Homo sapiens: one gene and its partner. Changing the gene in region 1 together with any one later gene gives a genetic interaction. Each region holds a gene or a part of one and is shown on either strand. Other genes may lie near its edges. The genes, in order: RNF4 and TBP.

Region 1 (3,818 bases):
TATATGGAAAAAAAAATACTATCTAGGACTTTCATAGCTAGAGAAAGGTCAATGCCTGGCTTCAAAGGACAGTCTGATTCTCTTGTTAGGGGCTAGTGTGGCCAGTGACTTAAGTTGTAACTAGTGCTCATTTACCATTCTGAAAATCCTAGGGCCCTTAAGAAGTATGCAAAAATCTACTGTGTGCTGATCATTGAAACAGGAAAGCCTGTATAGTAGCATATCTGTTTACAGTATGTTTTACTGAATATTTTAAGCCCACTATTGAGATCTACAGCTCAGAAAAAAAGATTTCTTTCAAAATATTACTGCTCATTGAGAATGTGCTTAGTCACCAAAGAGGTCTCATGGAGATGAGTAAGATTAATGTTAACATCTGTTCTGCAGCCCATGGATCAAGGAGTAATTTCAACTCTCAAATCTTACTTAAGAAATGCATCTTGAGGCTGAGCACAGTGGCTCATGCCTGTACTCGCAGCACTTCGGGAGGCCAAAGCTGGTGGATCGCTTGAGCTCAGGAGTTAGAGACCAGCCGGGGCAGCATAGTGAGACCACCCCCTCCACTGCCAGTCTCTTAAAAAAAAAAAAAAAAAAGGGCGGCAGGGGGAAAGAAAGAAATGCATTTTGTAAGGCTACAGCTACATAGATTGTGATTCTTCTGATGGGTATCAACAATGTAAATTAAAAACCTCCTGAAAGGATATACTATTCTAGATACCATTAAGAATATTTGTCTCCAGGCACGGTGGCTCACCCGTGTAATCCCAGCACTTTGGGAGGCGAAGTGGGCGGATCACAAGGTCAGGAGATCGAGACCATCCTGGCTAACATGGTGAAACCCCATCTCTACTAAAAATACAAAAAATTAGCCGGTCTTGGCAGCGGGCACCTGTAGTCCCAGCTACTCGGGAGGCTGAGGCAGGAGAATGGTGTGAACCCGGGAAGAGGAGCTTGCAGTGAGCCAAGATAGCACCACTGCACTCCAGCCTGGGCAACAGAGCGAGACTCCATCTCAAAAAAGAAAAAAAAAAAGAATATTTGTGATTCATGGGAGGAGGTCAAAATATCAACATCAGCAGTTCACGGTGGCTCACGCCTGTAATCCCAGCACTTTGGGAGGCTGGGGCAGGCAGATCACCTGAGGTCAGGAGTTTGAGACCAGCCTGCCCAACATGGTGAAACCCCGTCTCTACCAACAAAATACAAAAATTAGCCAGGCATGGTGGCACGCTCCTGTAGTCCCAGCTACTTGAGGAGCTGAGGTAGGTTAATCGCTTGGGCCCAGGAGGTGGAGGCTGCAGTGAGCCGAGATTGTGCCTCTGCACTACAGCCTGGGCAACAGTGAGATTCCGTCTTAAAAAAAAAAATCAATTAACACAACAAGAACTTGGAAAAAGTTGATTCTGACCCTCATGGGTGACTTTGAGGGGTTCTAGACTTCAATGGAAAAAGTAACTGTAGATGTGGTGGAAATAGCAAGAGAACTAGAATTAGAAGTAGAGCCTGGCCGGGCCTGGTGGCTCACGCCTGTAATCTCAGCACTTTGGGAGGCCTAGGCGGGTGGATTACGAGGTCAGGAGTTCACAACCAGCCTGGCCAGATGGTGAAACCCCGTCTCTACTAAAAATACAAAAAATTAGCAGGGCGTGGTGGCGCACGCCTGTAATCCTAGCTACTCTGGAAGCTGAGGCAGAGAATTGCTTAAACCTGGAGGGGCAGAGGTTGTGGTGAGCCGAGATCACACTACTGCACTCCAGCCTGGGCGACAGAGCGAGACTCTGTCTAGAAAAAAAAAAGTAGAGCCTGAAGGCTGGGCCTGATGGATCACCTGAGGTCAGGAGTTGGAGACCAGCCTGGCCAACATGATAAAACCTTGTCTCTACTAAAAATACAAAAATTAGCTGAGCGTGGTAGTGGGATTGTTACTGCATAGTAATCCCGGCCACTCCAGAGGCTGAGGCAGGAGAATTGCTTGAACCCAGGAAGCAGAGGTTGCAGTGAGCCAAGATCGGGCCACTGCACTCAAGCGTGGACAATAGAGTGAGACTTTGTCTCAAAAAAATAAAAGGGCCAGGCAAGGTGGCTCACACCTGTAATCCCAGCACTTTGGGAGGCCAAGGCAGGCGGATCACGAGGTCAGGAGATTGAAACCATCCTGGCTAACACGGTGAAACACCGTCTCTACTAAAAACACACAAAAAAATTAGCCAGGTGTGGTGGCACGCACCTGTAATCGCAGCTACTCAGGAGGCTGAGGCAGGAGAATCGCTTGAACCCAGGAGGCAGAGGTTGCAGCGAGCCGAAATCACGCCATTGCACTCCATCCAGCCTGGTTGACAGAACGAGACTCTGTCTCAAAAAAAAAAAAAAAAAAAGTAGAACCTGAAGATGTGACTGAATTGCTGCAATTTTTAAATAAAACTTGAACACATGGAGAGTTGCTTCCTGTGGACAGGCAAAGAAAGTGGTTTCTTGAGGTGGAATTTACTGCTGAAGGTGCAGTGAACATTGTTGAGATTATAACAAAGGATTTAGAATATTTTATAAACTTAGTTAATAAAACAGTGGCAGGGTTTGAAAGGATTGACTCCAATTTTGAAAGAAGTTCCACTGTGGGTAAAATGCTGTCACACAGCATTGCACGCTACAGAGAAATCTTTCATGAAAGGAAGAGACAACTGATGCAGCAAACTTCATTTTAAGAAATTGTCACAGTTGGCCCAGTGCGGTGGCTCACGCCTGTAATCCCAGCACTTTAGGAGGCCGAGGCAGGCGGATCACCTCAGGTTGGGACTTCCAGACCAGCCTGGCCAACATGGAGAAACCCCGTCTCGACTAAAAATACAAAAAAATTAGCTGGGCGTGGTGGGGCATGCCTGTAATCCCAGCTACTCGGGAAGCTGAGACAGGAGAATTGCTTGAACCAGGGAGGCAGAGGTTGCGGTGAGCCAAGATTGCGCCGTTGTACTCCAGCCTGGGCAACAAGAGTGAAACTCCATCTCAAAAAAAGAAAAAGAAAAACTGTCACAGCTGCCCCAACCTTCATTAGCCACTGCCCTGATCCATGAGCAGCCATCATCAGGGCAAGACCCTTCACCAGCAAAAATATTACAACTTTGTGAAGACTCAAATGATCATTAGCATTTTTTATTTATTTTTTAAGAGAATATCTCCCTGTTGCCCCAGTTGGAGTGCATTGGTGCGATCGTAACTCACTGCAGCTTCCAACTTCTGGGTTCAAGAGATCCTCTCACCTCAGCCTCCCAAGTAGCTGGGGCTACAGGCGCACGCCACCGCACCTGGCTTTTTGTTTGTTTGTTTGTTTGTTTTTGAGATGTAGTCTCACTCTGCCGCCCAGGCTGGTGTGCAGTGGCGCGATCTCGGCTCATTGCAAGCTCCGCCTCCCAGGTTCACGCCATTCTCCTGCCTCAGCCTCCCGGGTAGCTGGGACTACAGGCACGTGCCACCATGCCCAGCTAATTTTTTGTATTTTTAGTAGAGATAGGGTTTCACCGTGTTTGCCAGGATGGTCTCGATCTCCTGACCTCAAGATCCACCCGCCTCAGCCTCCCAAAGTGCTGGGATTACAGGCGTGAGCCACCTCGCCTGGCCCACACCTGGCTAATTTTTAACAAAGTTTTGTAGACTGGGTCTTGCCCTTTTGTCCAGGCTGGTCTCAGACTCCAGACTCATGATTTAATATCTATGGTTGAGTGATTCCCTACTTCTTACTCTCTTACAGAACCACTCTATAAGATAGTTGTTGTAGTTAGCCCCATTTTACTCTTCCTGAGGCACTGGGAGATCAGGGTCACTTG
Region 2 (3,818 bases), on another chromosome or scaffold:
CCCTCACCAAATTATTTTCTAGTTTTATTTTTCCCCTTTTACATTTCAAGCTCTCAACCACCCATCTACTTTAAAAATTTTTCAGCCTGGGTGCAGTGGCTCACGCCTGTAATCCCAGCACTTTGGGAGGCCAAGGTGGGCGGATCACCTGAGGTCAGGAGTTCGAGACCAGCCTGGCCAACGTGGTGAAACCTCATCTCTACAAAATATACAAAAATTAGCCAGGTGTTGTGGCGGGTGCCTGTAATCCCAGCTACTCGGGAGGCTGAGGCAAGGAGAATTGCTTGAACCCGGGAGGTGGAGGTTGCAGTGAGCAGAGGTCGTGCCACTGCACTCCAGCCTGGGAGACAGAGCGAGACTCTGTCTCAAAAAAAAAAAAAAAAAAAAAAAAATCAATAACTTTTGTTGAAATATACATACAAAAAAACTCATTTTAAGTGTCTGTTTTGATAATTATATATAATGTATAAATTACAGAACATTTCAGTTACCTTAAAAAGTCCCTTCTTCCCCTTTATAGTCACTCTGCTGGCCCCAGGTAACTACTGCATCTGCTTTTCAATGCTGAAGATTAGTTTTGTCTATTCTAGAATTTCATATAGATGGAATCAGAGTGTATGCTTTTTTGTGTATGTCTGACTTCTTAGCCCAGTGTACTGTTTGTATATCAGTAGTTAATCCATTGTATAGCTAAGTATCACTCCATTGTTTGGATGTTCCACAGTTCATCCATTCTCCAGTTGCTCACATTTGGGGTCTTTCCAGTTTGGAGCTATTGCGAATAAAAGCACTGTAAACATTTGTGTAGACTTTGAATGCACTGTTTTTACTTCTCATGGGTAAATACTTAGGAGTAGGATTGCTAGGTCCTATATTGGTATATGTATAACTTTATAAGAAACTGCCAAACTGTTTTTTGAAGTGGCTGTATTGTTTTGCAGCATAAGAGATTTAAGTTGCTCCACATCCTCACCAACACTTTCTGCTGTCAGTCTTTTTACTTTCACTCTAGTGATTGCTTAGTAGTATCTTATTGTGGTTTTGATTTTTATTTGCCTGATTACTAATGTTTCTGAGCACCTTGGCAAGTGCTTGTCAGCCACTCATACACAGGCCCACCTCACTTTACTGCACTTCACTTTACTGCATGTTTGACAAATTGAAGGTTGTGGTAAACCTGTACCCAGCAAGTCTGTTGGCATTATTTTTCCAAAAGTGTGTACTCACTTCATGTCTTGGGGTTAGATTTTGGTAATTTTTGCAGGATTTCAAACTTTTTCATTATTATCCGTTATTGTTATCAAACTTTTTTTTTTCTTTTTTTTTGTATTTTTTTTTTAATTTTTTTTTTCAGTCACTCTGTTGCCCAGGCTGGAGTGCAGTGGTGCAGTCTTGGCTCACTGCAAACTCCATCTCCCGTGTTCAAGCGATTCTCCTGCCTCAGCCTCCCAAGTAGCTGGGATTACAGGCATGCGCCACCACACCCAGCTAAATTTTGTATTTTTAGTGGAGACGGAGTTTCACCATGCTGGTGTCAAACTACTGGCTGCAAGTGATCCATCCGCCTTGGCCTCCCAAAGTGTTGGGATTACAGGCATGAGCCACTGTGCCTAGTCAAACCTTTTCATTATTATCTGTTATTGTGATCAGTGATCTTTGATGTTACTATTGTAATTATTATTGAATGCCATAAACTGCACCTGTATAATACAGGAACTTAATTGATAAATGTCTGCAGCGTGACCAACCATTCCCCCATCTCTCTCCCTCTGCTTGGTCTTCCCTATTCCTTGAGACACAACAATATGGAAATTAGGCTAATTAATAACCTTACAGTGACTTTTAATTAAGTGTTCAGATGAAGGGAAGAGCTGCACATCTCTCATTTGAAACCAAAAGCTATAAATGATTATACTTAGTGAAGAAGGCATGTTGAAAGCTGAGACAGGCTAAAAGCTAGGCCTCTTGCACCAAATAGTTAGCCAAGTTGTGAATGCAAGGGAAAAGTTCTTAAAGGAAATTAGAAGTGCTACTCCAGTAAACCCACAAGTGATAAGAAAGCAAAACAGCCTTATTGCTTATATGGAGAAAGTTTGAATGGTCTGGATAGAAGATCATACCACCCACACATCCCCTTAAGCCAAAGTGTAATACAGAGCAAGGCCTTAACTCTCTTCAATTCTGTAAAGGCTGAGAGCGGAGAGGAAGCTGTAGAAGAAAGTTTTGAAACTAGCAGAGGTTTATTCAGAGCTTTAAGGAGAGAGGCCTTCTCCACAACATAAAAATGCAACATGAAGCAGCAAGTTATCTGGAAGATCTAGCTGAGATAATTGATGAAGGTGACTATACTAAATAATAGATTTTTAATGTAGATGAAACAGCCTTCTACTGGAAGAAGATGCTATCTAGGACTTTTATAGCTAGAGAGGAGAAATCAGTGCCTAGCCTCAAAGCTTCAGAGGACTGGCTGACTAGTTAGGGGCTAATAGAGCTGGTGAGTTTAAATTGAAGCCAATGCTCATGTTCTGCTCTAAAACCATAGAGCCTTAAGAATTACGCTAAATCTACTCTGCCTGTCCTCAGTAAACAGAACAACAAAACCTGATGAGAGCACGTCTGTTTACAGCATGATTTACTGGATATTTTAAGCTCTTTGAGATCTGCTCAGAAAAAAAGTTTAATTTCAAAATATTACTCACTGACAGTGTAACTAGTTGTCCACAAGCTCTGATGGAGAAGAACAAGGAGATTAATATTGTTTTCATGCCTGCTTAAATAATATATCCATTCTTCAGCCCATGGATCAAGGAGTAATTTCAACTTTCAATTCTTACTATTTAAGAAATACAGCAGGGCATGGTGGCTCATGCTTGTAATCTCAGTACTTTGGGAGGCCAAGGTGGAAGGATCACTCAAAGCTAGGAGCTCAAGACCAACCTGGGTAACAAAACAAGTCCCTGTTGCTACAAAAAAAAATTTTTTTTTAATTAGCTGGTCATGGTGGCATGTGCCTGTAGTCCCAGCTACTTGGGAGGCTGAGGCGGGAGGGTCACTTGAGTCCAGAAGTTAAAGGCTACAATGGAGACCCTGTCTCAAAGAAAGGAAGCAGGGAGGGACATATGCTGTAGCTGCCATAGATAGTGATTCCTCTGATGAATCTGGGCAAAGTGAATTGAAAACCTTCTGAAAAAGATTCACCATTCTAGATGCCATTAAGAATGTTCATGATTCATGGGAGGAGGGTGAAATATCAACATGAATAAGAGTTTGGAAGAGGTTGATTCCAACCCTCGTGGATGACTTTGAGAGGTTCTAGACTTCAGTGCTGGAAGTTACTGCAGGTGTAGTGGAAATAGCAAGTGAACTAGAATTAGAAGTGAACCTGAAGATGTGACTGAATTGCTGCAATTTTTTGATAAAACCTGAACAGATGAGGAGTTGCTTCTTGTGAGTAAGCAAAGAAAGTGGTTTCTTGAGATAGAATTGACTCCTGGTGAAGAACTGATGACTTTAGAATATTACATAAACTTAGTTGATAAAGCAGCAGCAGGGTTTGAGAGGATTGACTCCAATTTTGAAATAAGTTCTAGTGTGGGTAAAATGCTGTCAAATAGTATCATATGCTACAGAGACATCTTCAGTGAAAGGAAGAGTCAGTCAGTGTGGCAAACTTCGTCAGTCTTATTTTAAGAAATTGCCACAGCTACCACCCTGATCAGTCAGCAGCCATCAACATCGAGGCAAGATCCTCTGTCAGCAAAAAGATTATGATTTGCTGCAGGCTCACATGATTGTTAGCATTTTTAGCAATAAAGCAT

What was found.
Region 2: of RNF4 (region 1) and TBP, changing one enhances a phenotype caused by changing the other (phenotypic enhancement), as found in Homo sapiens cells (one study listed by BioGRID).

Annotation. Positions count from the first base shown.
Region 1 is NC_000004.12:2,472,026-2,475,843, forward strand, and holds part of RNF4 (E3 ubiquitin-protein ligase RNF4), read left to right. Parts: intron 1-3,818. UniProt on the Homo sapiens protein: E3 ubiquitin-protein ligase which binds polysumoylated chains covalently attached to proteins and mediates 'Lys-6'-, 'Lys-11'-, 'Lys-48'- and 'Lys-63'-linked polyubiquitination of those substrates and their subsequent targeting to the proteasome for degradation.
Region 2 is NC_000006.12:170,557,369-170,561,186, forward strand, and holds part of TBP (TATA-box-binding protein), read left to right. Parts: intron 1-3,818. UniProt on the Homo sapiens protein: The TFIID basal transcription factor complex plays a major role in the initiation of RNA polymerase II (Pol II)-dependent transcription.